Regions from separate parts of the Homo sapiens genome. Here region 2 is linked to region 1. A link means that fine-mapping ties the variant in region 1 to the expression of a gene that starts in the linked region. Tissue or cell type: whole blood. Region 1 holds a variant in brackets; the other region holds the start of a gene. All regions are shown on one strand. Distances are from middle to middle.

Region 1 (8,109 bases):
TTTGGAAATAACAAACACAAGGTATCTTATTTCTAGGTCATTGTTTCTACATCAAAGAGCCCTGTGCAAATGGATAATTAAAATGTAAAGATTGATGAGGATTTACTACCAACATTAATCTAATTATTTCTGTCCCTATGGAATCCACTGCACAATTGTAAAGAGAATAATCAGATTCTCAAAAATGGCAAGACCCAATCATGCCAATGAGATGATTTTAAAAGTTTATGCTTAATTTGCATGAATAATACATACTGAAATAGCTTAGGTCATGCTGGCTCAGTATGACAAACTCCACTGACAATTTTGTATATAATACCGGTATGATTATAGTGTAATATGGATGCTTAAAATAATAATAAATGACAATCATAAGATGAGTTAAAATTTTTGTGTTTTAAGAAAAAAAAATTCTAAAAGTGAGAAGATAGTTTTGGTCTATAGTCACATACTAAGCACAAGCTTCAGATTTGTGCTTGTCTTCACGACAACTAGTCACCAGCACAATAAAACAAATACTAATACTCACCTGAGTATGGTTTCACTGGCATGTCATCCAGTAAGAGGTGTAGGAGCCTCTGGGTATGTGACCGCTGACGATTCAGAGAGGTTACCCTTAGCTCTATTGAGGCAGTTTTCATAAGCCATGACATCTGGTTCAGCATAGATATTTCATATTCTAGAATTTAAACATGTAAATTTTGTTTCCCAGAGTAATAACACAGTATCAAAACAGACTTAAATTCTGTAACTCAACAGATATTTTCCCATGTAACAAAGTCAATAATTTATGAAACTCAGCAACATAATAATTTCTCACTCTGTAAAATTACAAGAGGAAAAAAAAGATACCAAGAAAGAAAAAAATAAGCTAGTATAAATTTACGAAAGATGGGCTAAAGTAAATGAAGAGTAAAAGAGAATCAAGTTTTCATTACTGATTTTAATTTCACAAAGATCCTGAATCTATCGTATTTTGACACTGATATATAAAACAATATTTTAAAGTAATTTTCAAATACATAACTCAAAAAACTATCATAGTTTGGTTTTGATTTCACAAAACAAATACATAAGAAAAATTAAACTTAAATTGCATGATTTTATAATACCTCAATTAATGATGTGGTTTAACATTTAATTAAGGCTGAGAATCACTTATACAATAGTTTTTATTTTTATTTATTTATTTTTTATTGTAGAGACAGGGTCTCACTCTATTGCCCAGGCTGTACTTGAACTCCTTGCCTCAGTGTTCCTCCTGTCTCAGCCTACCTAAGCACTGGGATTATAGGCGCGAGCCACTGTGCCTGGTCCTACAATAAGATTTTTTTAATCCAATACTATTTTAATATGCTTGACATTGAAACCCTAAACTGTGACAGTATAAACATAAAATTAACCATATAACAATACTAATAATAATTTCAGGCAAAGCTAAATGAAGTTTTATAAAACACATACCATAATAGGTAAGATGTTAATTTTTATTTTTAATTAGGTGTAAAGAGGGTTTCTAAAAGCTTCTTAAACAAAATCCCAGAACTAAAAATAAGACACTTATGAAAATAGAGTGAAAAACCTTTTGCCATTAGATAATTCTCAGAGGTCTAACGCCATTACTCTAAAAGGTAAATTAGATGCTGACAATTACTAGTAATAGAAATTTGTTTATGGCATGTGTGAGCCTCAACTTCCTAAAACATAAAGATGACACAAGCTAAACTTTTAAAAAACTCAACAGACTAAGACTGTCTGAATATAGTCTGAATTCAGAAAACTGTTAAAAGTTGGTCAAAAAGAAAATAAAGTAGAATCTCGATAAGACTGCATTAGCCTGGAATAATTGTTAGCCATGTCAATAAACTAAGTTAAAACTGTTTTCTACCATAATTAGTTTTCAACTTTTCATTTCAAGATCTGAATTGGTTTCAATACAAACACAAGAAACAAAAATAAACCAGGATTTTTTTTTTCCTCATAAACAGCCTGGGAAGAGAAAATCAGAAATCTTCGTAAAACAATTTTCATTCAAAAACTTTAAATTCCCATTAATTTTCTAATCCCTTCAACACAATCTTTAAATTTTATTTGTTGTAAGAGAATCAAATTCCATCCTTGATAGGCTATATTTAAATAAGTTTTTGCTAGCAGTTAAAATATCAGCCTTCTTTAAGCAGAAATTACAAAAAGAACCCAAAATAACAAAGAAGCCAAAGTATCAGAATGAGAACAGAATTCCCCCAAATATTGTATAAATAAAATCACTTAACATGGAATTATAAATGTGTTCTTATAAATACGGGAAAATAATGGCCTACCTTTGTTAGAAAATGGTAGATACTGCAACTGGGAAAATAAGAAATCCTGGCTGGTTCTCAAGTACCTCATAGTAGGACCAGATGTATCAGAGCATGCACATAACTGATATATGACCTAAAGCATTAAAGTAAGAAAAATCCCTGAATCAGTCTTTCTGTGTTACACATATTATGGTAACAAAATATGAACTTAGACCTACTAAGTGAAAAACTAGGACCCATCAACAACTCAAGTAAAATGGACAAACAGATGCACAAAACATAAGCTCAGAGTTATGAACAGTCCTTGGCAACCTAGCTCAAGAAAATACACTGAAATACAATGGAGTGCTGGTGACATTATTACACAACTATTATTAATATACTTATTAATATATACACATATAGTTAATTTTACTATACACATATAGTACATTTTAGTATTTTAGCTTAATTATTAGTAGCAGGCCGGGCACGGTGGCTCACCTCCCAACACTTTGGGAGGCTGAGGTGGGCAGATTACTTGAGGTCAGGAGTTTGAGACCAGTCTGCTCAACATGGTGAAACTCTGTCTCTATAAAAATACAAAAATTAGCCAGGCATGGTAGCGTGTGCCTGTAATCCCAACTACTCGGAAGGCTGAGGCAGATTAATCACTTAAACCCTGGAGGTGGAGGTTGCAGTGAGCCAAGATCATGACACTGCACTCCAGCCTGGTGACAGGGCAAGACCCTGTCTCAAAAAAAAAAGAAAAAAAAAGAAAAGAAAAAAATTATTAGTAGCAAATTACTTGGAAATAACTTCTGAGAACCATAAGAGTTACATCTCAACCTCTGGAAGATTAAAATTACCAAAACTAAAGCAAATGCAGAAATTACAAAGAAGATCCATAAATTCAACTAAATAACAATAAACTGAATAAAAATTTAACAAAAAAGAATAGATAAGAGAAAAAGTTCTTATATTAAATATAAGAAAAAGTTGCTAGCTCTAATATATATAAAGATCTCCATTACAGATATGAATAACATAAAGATCTAAGTACCCCAGATGGTAAAAGTAGCCCATATGGTAAAAGACATTTTATATGAGAAAAATAAAAATAGCCCATAATAAAAAATGTCCATCTGTTTTCAGGAATTAAAAAAAAAAATCAAGATGATAATAGGTAGGTATCATATTATAAATCAGCAAATTTTTTTTTTTTTTGAGTCAGGGTCTCACTCTGTCACCCAGGTTGGAGTACAGTGGTGCAATCACAGCTCACTGCAGCCTCAACCTCCTGGGCTAAAGTGATCCTCCCAGCTCAGCCTTCTGAGTAGCTGGGACTACAGTAATTGCATGCCACCATG[C/T]GTGGCTAATATGAACATTTATTAGATGCTTTCCATGTACCAGGCACTTTAAGACATGTTTATTCTGAGCACTATTAATACCTAGTATAATTGTTATGACTACTTGTGAATTAAAATCTAAAGCCAAAACTCTTGATAGTCTTTGACCCAACACAGTCAATCCTCATTATTTACAGATTCCATATTTGCAAATTCACCTAACATGCTAAAATTTATTTAAAATCCCAAAATCAATACTTGCAGTGCTTCCATGGTCCTTCATGCGCGGGAGAACAGCTACAAACTGCAGTCACCGAACTCTCATGCTCTCTAATGGAGCAATGCTTTTCCTGTTCCAGCTATCATACTATAAAAAGGGTTCTTTAAATGGTCTATTTAGTGCCACGTTTTTTGCATTTTTGTGCTTTTTGTTGATTTTGCTGTTTAAAACAGCCCCCAAGCATAGTGCTGAAATGCTGCCTTGTCCCTAAGTGCAAAAAGGCTGTGATATGCCTTTAAGATAAAATACTACATTAGATAAATTTCATTCAGGCTGAGTTATAGTGCTGTTGGCTATGAGTTTAATGTTAATGAATCAACTACATTAAGTAAGGTGTCTTTAAACAGAAACACACATAAAACATGATTATGAATTCATCAGTTGACAAGAATGTTGGAACCAGACACTTGCAGGAATCCTAGCCTGTATTTTCCATAGGGGCAATGAATTCACCAATTCAGTTTTCACAATGACTTTATAAAACACAACTACTGTGAATAACGAGAACTGACTATAAACCCTTGTCTGGAAATATATTCTGTTTTTTTTTCTTCTGTTTTTTTTGAGATGCAGTTTCATTCTGTCGCTCAGGCTGGAGTGCAGTGGCGCGATCTCGGCTCACTGCAAGCTCCACGTCCCGGGTTCATGCCATTCTCCCGCCTCAGCCTCCTGAGTAGCTGGGACTACAGGTGCCCACCACCATACCCGGCTAATATTTTGTTTTTGTATTTTTAGTAGAGACGGGGTTTCACCGTGTTAGCCAGGATGGTCTTGATCTCCTGACCTCATGATCCACCCGCCTCAGCCTCCCAAAGTGCTGGGATTACAGGTGTGACCCACAGTGCCCGCCTGGAAATATATTCTTAAGAAAAATACAAAACAACCAAAGGTAATTTATTTATTTACAACTGCCACCTCCCAGGTTCAAGCGATTCTCCTGCCTCAGCCTCCCAAGTACCTGGGATTAACAGGCACATGGCATAACGCCTGGCTAATTTTTGTTTTTTTGTTCGCTACAGCAGAGTAAAAAAAAAACTGGAAACAACCTGAATGTAATTTACATTGTTGCAGCACAGAAAGTTTATACAGAGAGGAGTAAAAAAGACACAAAATTTCATGTATACTGAATACAACTATAAACAATGTATATACACAAAGAGAAAGAAGACAAGGAAAAGAGTAAAAAGCTCTGCTACAGATGTACATTGACCTTTTAAACAGTTTTGATACCATTTTGATATTCTATAAACAAACAAAAACTTAAGCTAATACCGAACTTCTCAAAACAAAATCAGTTAGGTCTATTACTGGGGGAGTTAAGAAAACACAAGAAGATACTCTAACAAGTGGAAGAAATAATACTATCAGAAGAGAACTGCCAGGCAGTGACTCACGCATGTAATCCCAGCACTTTGGGAGGCCAAGGTGGACGGATCACCTGAGGTCAGGAGTTTGAGACCACCCTGGCCAACATGGTGAAACCCCGTCTCCACTAAAAATACAAAAATTATCCAGGCGTGGTGGCCCAGGGACGCCTGTAATCCCAGCTACTTGGGAGACTGAGGCACGAGAATTGCTTGAACCTGGGAGATGGAGGTTGCAGTGAGCCGAGACCACACCACTGCACTCCAGGCAAGGCGACAGAGCAAGACTCTGTCCCCCACCCAAAAAAAAAAAAAAAAGAAGAGAAGGACACAAAAAGTGAGTTCAAAAAGCACTGAAAGCCATTTTATTAAGATGTGGGCTATATCCTTCCTGGTTTCCAAGACCAGGGACCAGGTAGAAGAAATCTCCGTTCTTAAAGAAAAGAGGGCAAAGGCACCAGGCCTCAACTTCTTCACCCAGAAGCCCTTGTGTTGCAGGACAAGGAAGGTATCAGTAAGGACCATTTCCCTTTGCTACAATCAGATTTATTTAAACTAACAAGCTCTTCTTACTTAGAGGTTTAAATTTTTTTCTGAAGCAGGGTGAAGTACAAACATATAGGTATAGGGAGTATATTTAGTTATAAATGGAGCAGTGCTTTCTGTAAAAATGCAGATCCTGACTCATCAGGTCTAAAGTGGGGCCTCAGATTCTGCACTAATAAGCTCCTAGGAGATAATGCTGATGATACTGGTCCCTGGGCCATATTTGAGTAGCAAGGTCACAGAGCATATGTTATGGCCGGGCACGGTGGCTCACGCCTGTAATCTCAGCACTTTGGGAGGCCAAGGCGGGTGGATCACCTAAGGTCAGGAGTTTGAGACCAGCCTGGACAACATGGTGAAGCCCCCTCTCTACTAAAAATACAAAATTAGCCGGGTGTGATGGCACATGCCTGTAATCCCTGCTACTTGGGAGGCTGAGGCAGGAGAATCGCTTGAACCCGGGAGGTGGAGGTTGCGGTGAGCTGAGATCGTGCCACTGCACTCCACCTGGGCAATAGAGTGAGACTCCATCTCAAAAAACAGTAACAACGACAACAGAGAGTATGTTATAAACTGGTAAACTGCTGGTATGGACATGTTTTCCTTGGCTAGTAGAGTGTTCTAAAAGTTAGAACAACTTTAACAAAAATTCAGATTTCCAAATTCTTTTAAAAATGAATAAATAAAAATAAAAATTCAGACAATCTGGCCCAACAAATCCTGCACTCTGGCATGGTAAAATAAGCCAGGGATGAGTAGGAAGGCACATGCTCTCCAGTCTGCCAGATTCTCCTTTCCTCCCACTCCCTTAACTGGACCCTGGCTTCATTCATTTACTTCACCTGCCATTAGCCTAGGTGTTAAGCTTATCAGTTGTTTCTACTTATATATCAAATTCTGTAAATCTGTGCTAATATGTACATCAAATTTGTTCCCCCATAAGGAAGAATTAATTTTGATTTACAGGAAAACCTAGCTATAGTACTTACAGTGAAGGGATGTTTGGACAGCCGGAGGACAGAAAAGATAGTAAAGAATTACAAAAAGAAAAGCAGGAGATTAACAAAGAAAAATATCCATGCCAGTAACACTAAGAGGTTAGTGATGCATTTCTTTTTTTTTTTTTGAGATGGGGTCTCGCTCTGTTGCCCAGGCTGGAGTGCAGTGGTGCGATCTCGGCTCACTGCAAGCTCCGCCTCCCAAGTTCACGCCATTCTCCTGCCTCAGCTTCCCAAGTAGCTGGGACTACAGGCACACACCACCATGCCCGGATAATTTTTGTATTTTTTTTTTTCTGGGACAGAGTTTCGCTCTGTCGCCTAGGCTGGAGTGCAGTGGCGCGATCTCGGCTCACTGCAAGCTCCACCTCCCGGGTTCACGCCATTCTCCTGCCTCAGCCTCCCGAGTAGCTGGGACCACAGGTGCCAGCCACCATGCCCGGCTAATTTTTTGTATTTTTAGTAGAGATGGGGTTTCATTGTGTTAGTCAGGATGAATTTTTGTATTTTTAGTAGAGATGGGGTTTCACCATGTTCACCAGGATGGTCTTGATCTCCTGATCTCATGACCCACCATTTCTTATCCTAAAAATGTAAATTTAGGGTAACACTTAAATTGAGAAATTAGTCACAGCTTATAAAGCCTGGTTCTTTTTTTTTTTTTTTTTTTTGAGACGGAGTTTTGCTCTTGTTGCCCAGGCTGGAGTACAGTGGCACGATCTAGGTTCACTGCAACCTCTGCCTCCCGGGTAGAAGCAATTCTCCTGCCTCAGCCTCCTGAGGAGCTAGGATTACAGGCGTCCACAACCAGGCCCAGCTAATTTTTTTTGTATTTTTAGTAGAGATGGGGTTCCACCATGTTGGCCAGGCTGGTCTCTAACTCCTAACCTCAGGTGATCTGCTCACCTTAGCCTCCCAAAGTGCTGGGATTAAAGGCGTGAGTCACTGCACGCGGCCAAGCCTAGTTTTTAAAACACTTATAAAATGAATAAAACAATAAACAAAAGTGAACAAGCGAAATTATAAATTATCATTATAGTTTACTTATGTATTTATTTTTATTTTTTTTGAGACAGAGTCTCACTTTGCCACCCAGCTGGAGTGCAGTGGCATGATCTTGGCTCACTGCAACCTCTACCTCCTGGGTTCAAGCAATTCTCATGCCCCAGCCTCCCAAGTAGCTGGGATTACAGGCACGTGCCACCACGCCCAGCTAATTTTTGTATTTTCAGCAGAGACAAGGTTTTGCCATGTTTCCCCGGCTGGTCTCCAACTCCTGGCCTCAAGTGA
Region 2 (8,109 bases), 54 kb after region 1:
CAAAAATTAGCCAGGTGTGGTGGTGGGCGCCTGTAATCCCAGCTACTTAGGGAGGCTAAGGCAGGAGAATCTCTTGAACCTGGGAGGCAGAGGTTGTAGTGAGCTGAGATCACACCACCGCACTCCAGTCTGGGCGACAGAATGAGCCCCTGTCTCAAAATAAAAAATAATTTTTTAAAAAGGAACTTTCTGAACTACAAGAAACAGAAGTTAACCCTATTGAGAGCTGTTTACAAGGATGGAAGAGACCAGAATGGGTGAAGGAATAGGAGGTATGAAAAGGGAGTCAGTAGGCTGGGCATAGCAGTTCAGGCCTGTAATCCCAGCTACTAGGCTGAGGCAGGAGAATCATTTAAACTTGGGAGGTGGAGACTGCAGTGAGCCGAGACTGCACCACTGCACTCCAGCCTGGGCAGAGTGAGGGAGGGAGGGAAGGAAGGAAGGAAGGAAGGAGGGAAGGAAGGAAGGAACAAAGGAAGGAAGGAGATGGAGTCCATGAATACTAACAAATCTTTTGAAAGGCTTGACTAGGAAGAGGACAGTAAGTGGAGTGACGCATGAGATCATCAGTGGAGAGAAAGGGAAGAGCAAGAGAGAGAAGTGAATATACAAGACAAAAAAAGGGGTAACAGGTGAAGAACACAATGGGTGGGATTTACATTAGATAGGAAGACAGAGGAAAAGTGATTCAAAAGAATGCAGACACACCTAGGTTTGTAGGTTTGAGAGTGAATAAAGGGAGTTCATGTATGTTGGCTCCTATTTTCTCTGTGACTAGAAGTCTGAGGGTTTAGTTAGTTGCAGGTTAAAGATTTGAAGAGTGTAGAAAGGTCTGAAGTAGTCACTGCTGTGAATGGACGAGGTGACCAGACTATCACAGAAGGACTGCCAAGCAGTGTTAATAGTTGCTTATTCACAAGTCTGTGAGTGTACTCAGCCAGGTTGATACAGGTCACAAGACTAGTTAAGTTATACAGCTGAAATACAAGCATAGGTTTTTTTGTTTGTTTTTTGTTTGTTTGTTTTTAAGACAGAGTCTCGCTCTGTTGCCTAGGCTGGAGTGCAGTGGTATGATCTCGGCTCACTGCAACCTCCTCCTCCTGGGTTCAAGCAATTCTCCTGCCTCAGCCTCCCGAGTAGCTGGGATTACAGACACCTGCCATCATGCCAGGCTAATTTTTGTATTTTTGTAGAGACAGGGTTTCACCATGTTGGCCAGGCTGGTCTCGAACTCCTGACTTCAGGTGATCTGCCCACTTCAGCCTCCCAAAGTGCTGGGATTACAGGCATAAGCCACCACACCTGGCCAACCATAGGTCTTAGAACTCTACAATCTCTGTATTTTTTCCTTACAACTCCAAGATGTTTGATTTTTTAAAACTGTAATTTAAAGGAAGCACATAACATAGAATGCAATCTCAACAAATTTTAAGTGTACAGTTCAGCAGTGTTCAGTGTATTCACATTGTGCAACAGATCTTCACAGCTTTTTTCATCTTGCAAAACAGAAACTCTATGCCCCCTAAACAACTCCCCACTTTCCCCTTTCCCAGCCCCTGGCAACCACCATTCTACTTTCTGTTTCTATGAGTATGACTACTTCAGATACCTCATATAAGTGGAATCATGTAGTATTTGTGTCTTGTGACTGGCTTATTTCACTTAGTATGTCCTCAAGTTTCATCCACGTTGTTTTATGTGACAGGATTTCCTTCCTTTTTAAGGCTGCATAAGGATACTATATATATGCATGTATACGTTATGTTATGTATATGCATGTATATGTATTATGCATATTGCATGTATATGACACATTTCCTTTACCCACTCAACCCAACATTCATTCCTTGATGGAAAAAGAGTTCCTTCCCTAAGACGTTTAGTTTTTTAAAAAACCAGCTCCTGACTCTTGGCTTTTAAAAATGTTTCCTATGTTGCCAATTAAACACTCCTGACACAAGGCTTTATTATACAATGTACACTCTTTGCTGCTGTTGGCAACTCCTTTTCCCTCCAATGATTTGTTTAATAATTATAATAGCTTAGGGCGAGTATGTACTAAAGGAATGTATATAGGCCAGGCACAGTGGCTCACGCCTGTAATCCCAGCACTTTGGGATGCCGAGGTAGGCGGATCACCTGAGGTCAGGAGTTTGAGACCAGTCTGGCCAACATGGTGAAACCCCGTCTCTACTAAAAATACAAAAAAAATTGGCCAGGCGCAGTGGCTCACACCTGTAATCCCAGCACTTTGGGAGGCTGAAGGGAGTGAATCACGGGGTCAGGAGCTCGAGACCAGCCTGGCCAATATGGTGAAACCCCTTCTCTACTACAAATACAAAAAATTAGCTGGGTGTAGTGGCGGGCGCCTGTAATCCCAGCCCCTCGGGAGGCTGAGGCAGGGGAATCGCTTGAACCCAGGAGGCGGACGTTGCAGTGAGCCAAGATCGTGCCACTGCACTCCAGCCCGGGCAACAGAGTGAGACTCCATCTCAAAAAAAAATTAGCCAGGCTAGCCAAGCATGGTGGCGGGCGCCTGTAATCCCAGTTACTTCAGAGGCTGAGGCAGGAGAGTTGCTCCAACCCAGGAGGTGGAGGCTGCAGTGAGCCGAGATCACGCCACTGCACTCCAGCCTGGGTGGACAGGATGAGACTCCATCTCAAAAAAAGAAAAAAAAAAAAAAGGAAAATAAATGTGTATACCTTGCGTACTGGCTCACACCTGTAAACCTACCACTTTGGGAGGCCGAGGCAGAAAGATCGCTTGAGGACAGCAGTTCGAGATCAGCCTAGCCAACATGGAGAAACCCCACCTCTACTAAAAATACAAAAATTAGCCCAGCGTGGTGGCACATGCCTGTAATCCCAGCTACTCAGGAGGCTGAGGCAGGAGAATTGCTTCAACCTGGGAGGCAGAGGTTGCAGCGAGCCAGGATCGCGGATCGCATCACTGCACTCCCGCCTGGGAGACAGAGCAAGACTCCATCTCAAAAAGAAAAATTAAAAAATAAAATAAAATAGAGAAATGTATTATATACAACCACACGTTAAGCATATCTAATTGGGAAGGAAGGACCGCAATATTAAGCATGTAACTTCATTACTAACCTTCTAATATATACGTCTAATATCATAAAATGAATTAGGTTGTGCTTAAGCAGTAGCACTAAGTAGTTTAAGCACCTAAGACTGACTTAGATCATTAGATGTTTAACTCTGGGGACATTACGTAACTATTTGAAGCCTCTATTTCCAAATCTGTAAAACGGAGTATGTAACAGTAACTACTCCAAAGGTGTATAAACGGGAACTGAATGAGATAAGCACGATAATAAGTGCAATGCTGGGATATAGTATGTGTTCAGTAAACATAGCCTTCATTATAATTTATCATAGCTTTTCTGAAATGATTTGATTTACAAAACAGATTTAGACAACTTTTCAAGAATATCAGTCCTGTGGAAAATAGAACCAATACTTTAAAAAAGAGTCCTTTTAAGTGAGATTCTCACAAGCATTTACCACACAGATATACTCTTAATCTTGCCCGCGAACTTCAGAGCATCTCAATCGAGGCATTAACATTCTAGGCACCAAATTATTTTTCCGGACTGCTCTGACCATGAAGGACTTTCTGCATCCTTGCCCCGCCTACTATGCGACAGCAGTGTACCCCAGGAAATATGACAATCAAAATGCACTCACTCATTCAAACACCACTGGAGGGCGGTACGGCCCGAATTGAGAATCACCGAAAGAGGATCCACCCCAAATCTTCCAGAGTTCCTTTACTACCTTCTAGATTCAATTCCACCCCGAAAATCTACAGCTCCAAAGGTACAAGAACATCCAGGGCCTAACCACATCCGCAGGGTTAGAAGACGTCTGCTGAAGCCCCGCCACCCTCTTCCTGACCACCTTTCAGATGGCCGACTTCATAATAGGGAGTATTCGCTGCCTGCAAGATCTCCCACCCTATAAGGAACTCCGACGCCTACTTTCAGCCTCTGCTCATGGCTGGAAAATATCTCGGGTCCTCTGGCTTCACTGTGGAAGACCTGATGCGTATTCCAGCGAAATCGGGACCACAGACGCACAGTGAAACTTGGGGGTGAGGGGGACCAGACTCAGCCCTGGGCTGTGAGAGATTACACACCTGGGTCCAGCGGCCCAAGCCTCACTGCCTGGAATCTCAAACCCCAACTCGAGGGCTGGAGCCGCAGCACCGACGCGCGCCATTCAAACTGGGGAGGGGTGGGACTCTAGGCCCAGAATTAGGGAAAAGCAGGCACCGCACATAAGTGGGGTCCTAGACTCCGAGAAACCTCACGGTCTCGTCTCTCCATGAAGACCTGGTTATCGCTCAGCTCAATCGTCTTTCTGTCTGGCCACACTTACCCGAATTTACCGCCAAAGGCGTCGCCATCTTAGAGGCGCACTAACAGAGCCCTTCTGCCGCATGGAGGCCCCGGGAAAGGGTGAGGCTGACCTGAGCGAAGCCTGAACAAAAAGGCACCACACTGTCCCCTCCACGCTGGGCCGTCCCAGGCGTACAAAAGGCTCCAGAATCTGCTCTGGGTCACAAACATCAATTTTCATTGGGATTATTCCCATTCAAATAAGGCGAGGGCAACCACTTCAGAGACACGAGGTCCTCGATCCGACGTTCATCGTGTAGTGCATCCTGGGACTTGTAGTTTCTAATGATGAGTTGGTTAAGTGGAGAGGAAAAAGTAAAGTGGAATAGAAAAAGATATTCTGAGAGTAGTTATTAAAATGACGCCCATTTATGACATTATAAAAGCCGTAAATTCAAATCATTATCTCCGCTTCAAGTTAAATCTTCCTTACAGTGGGGAGTGAAGTAAGGTATGAAGTGTCTACACCTCAAAAAGCCACTGACCGGTTACAAACTAAGTTTCCGTGACATTTCAGTTTACCAAATATATTCTGTCAACATAGTTGCGTAGAGCGAAACAAATCATAATTTTTAATTATAAAATTTTCAAACGGATACAAAATTAGAATAGCAAACACTCAGCATCAATAACGTGGCCAATTTCCCACCACGGCAGCCCCAACCCACCCTTACCACCCCAACACCCTCCCCTCCCCACCCCCCGCCCCCGATTAGTTTGAAACAGATTCCAGACATATCGTTTCATAATCACCAAGTATTTTTCTACCTGAGCACCCAAAGTAGCTGAACTCTTTCTTCAGCTGTTAAATTTTAGTTTGCTGATTTTCAAACTAAAATGTAAATAATCATTGCTATTTACAGCTATGTATTAAGAAAAATTTTATAGCCATTATCTCATTTAATCCCTGCAAACCATTCTATTGGGAAAATGATATGATTATAACTATTTATGTCAGAGACGCTCCATGTGCCTTACAATCTCATTGTATTAACTCTCCATCATTCCCATTTCACTGTTGGAAATCAGAATCAAATAATTTAGACAAAAGCATAGAGTATGTTAAGAATATCCAGAACTGGCAGGGCGCAGTGGCTTATGCCTGTAATCCCAGCACTTTGGGAGGCCAAGGCAGGCGATCACTTAAGGTCAAGTGTTTGAGACCAGCCTGGCCAGGAAGGTGAAACCCCGTCTCTACTAAAAATACAAAAATTAGCCAGGCATGGCGGCACGCACCTGTAACCCCAGCTGTTCGGAAGGCTGAGGCAGGAGAATCCCTTGAACCCGGGAGGTGGAGGTTGCAGTGAGCTGAGATCATACCACTGCACTCCAGCCTAGGCAACAGAGTGAGTGAGACTCCATTTAAAAAAAAAAAGAATATCCAGAACAGAACATTTATTCTTTTGAACAAATAATATCAAGTGACACAATGTACATTAGGTTTGAAACACAAAAATCACTGGTGATTTTTTCTAAAAGTCATTGATATATAGAGACAAATGCCAAACTACGATTAAAGTGGTTTTAAGGAGTGAAGTGGGGAAGAGAGAAAGTAAACGCAAAGGAATTTTTCAAGAAGTTTATCATGAAACTGAGAAGAATACTGAGCAGGAACTTGACAGGAAGCGGCATTCAAAGATTTCTCTCTCAGCACAGCTATTACAAGCCTTTCCCTCTCCACATGCACTTTTTAAGCCCACACGCTTCCCTCTCAGTAGATAACTTTGCTTTCTATAAAGTAACTCTTTAAATTCCAGCAACTCCTCTTCACCTGTCATTACACTTTACAAGCATTCTCTCACAGGCTTCTTCAATTCGTAGCAATTGGGATATTGCCATCATAAGCCCCTCTAAAACTGCGCTTGGTATGTTTACCAGTTATCAGTCATCAAATTCCATGGGCACTTTTCTGAATTATGATAGTTATAGGCCGGGTGCAGTGGCGCACGCCGGTAATCCTAGCACTATGGGACGCTGAGGTGGGAGAATCACCTGAGGTCAAGAGTTCGAGACCAGCCTGGCCAACATGGTGAAACCTTGTCTCTACTAAAAATACAAAATTAGCTGGGCGTGGTGACAGGACTCCTGTAATCCCAGCTACTTGGGAGACTAAGGCAGGAGAATCGCTTGAACCCCAGAGGCAGAGGTTGCAGTGAGCCGAGATCGCACCATTGCACTCCAGCCTGGGTAACAGAGTAAAAACTCTGCCTCAAAAAAAAAAAAAGAAAAAGAAAAGAAAAAGAAAGAAACAAAATTATATTATCCTGTGGCTACTGGGGCACCAATGATACTGGTTTTCCTCCTCTTTCCAGTTCTTTTTTAGTGTTTTACGTGGACTTCTCTTCCTCTTCTACCCACTAAATCTAGCTCTTCCCCTATAGTCATCTCTAGTTTCTGTCCTTTTCATTCTACATGCTTTCTGTGGGACATCTTATGGTTTCTTACTACCACCTGCTTGCTGATGAATTCTGTGTTTGTATCTCTAGTCCAGTCCTCTCTCTTGAGCTTCATATTTGTAGAACCAACTCTCTACTTCATATCTGTATTGATTGCCACACAGGCGTTTCAAAACCAACATGTCTGAAACGTAAATGATCACTTTTCCCCTAAAACTCTGCCACCTGTATCCCCACCCAGTTGCCAAAATCGGAAACCTGGGATTCTTTCTGTATTCTTCCTTCAATTGTCAAATCCTGTTCATTCTACCTCACAAATATTTCTGGAACCCTTTTCCTCTTCTCTGCTTTCTATGCCATTGTTCAAGTCTCATCTTCTTAAACTTGGTATTTTGCAATAGCCTTCTCATTTGTCTTTCTTATTTCCATCTGATCTTCCTTTCATGGACTCCTAAGGTGATTTTTATTTTTTATTTTATTTTATTAATTTATTTCAAGACACAGTTTCACTCTGTCGCTGGAGTGCAGTGGTGCAATCTTGGCTCACTGCAGCCTCCACCTCCCGGGTTCAAGCGATTCTTGTGCCTCAGCCTCCTGAGTAGCTGGGATTACAGGGGCATTTCACCACACCCGGCTAATTTTTGTATTTTTAGTACATGGCGGGGGGCGGGGGTTTGCCATGTTAGCCAGGCTGGTCTCGAACTCTTAACCTCGGCTTCCCAAAACACTGAAATTACAGGCATGAGTCACTGTGCCCAGCCTGAAAGTGATTTTTAAATACAAAAAAACATGACCGGACACGGTGGCTCACGCCTGTAATCCTAGCACTTTGGGAGGCCAAGACAGGCAGATCACCTGAGGTCAGGAGTTCGAGACCAGCCTGACCAACATGGAGAAACCCCGTCTCTACTAAAAATACAAAATTAGCTGGGCGTGGTGGCACATGCCTATAATGCCAGCTACTCAGGAGGCTGAGGCAGGAGAATTGCTTGAACCCGGGAGGCAGAGGTTGCGGTGAGCCAAGATCACGCCATTGCACTCCACCCTGGGCAAGAAGAGTGAAACTCTGTCTCAAAAAAAAGGAAAAAAAAATATGGCCAGGCGCAGTGCCTCACACCTGTAATCCCAGCACTTTGGGAGGCCGAGGCGGGCAGATCACGAGGTCAGGAGATTGAGACCATCCTGGCTAACACGGTGAAACCCCATCTCTACTAAAAATACAAAAAATTAGCCAGGTATGGTAGAGGGCACCTGTAGTCCCAGCTACTCAGGAGGCTGAGGCAGGAGAATGGTGT

What was found. PIP is the estimated chance that this variant, and not a neighbour inherited with it, causes the effect.
Region 2: NUP205 starts here. The variant in region 1 is fine-mapped to the expression of NUP205 in whole blood (INTERVAL, PIP above 0.99).

The regions. Positions count from the first base shown.
Region 1 is chr7:135,608,486-135,616,594 of GRCh38, reverse strand. NUP205 (nucleoporin 205) reads right to left here. Exons shown (of 43, transcript NM_015135.3): 23 at 2,322-2,436; 24 at 530-679. Among named protein-coding and RNA genes, the nearest start is that of STMP1, 50 kb to the left of the region's middle. The variant C/T (reference allele first, on the strand shown) is at 3,653.
Region 2 is chr7:135,554,262-135,562,370 of GRCh38, reverse strand. NUP205 (nucleoporin 205) reads right to left here and starts at 4,454. Exons shown (of 43, transcript NM_015135.3): 1 at 4,399-4,454. The coding sequence starts at 4,426. RefSeq lists enhancers at 3,744-3,863, 3,934-3,993, 4,054-4,103, 4,484-4,613.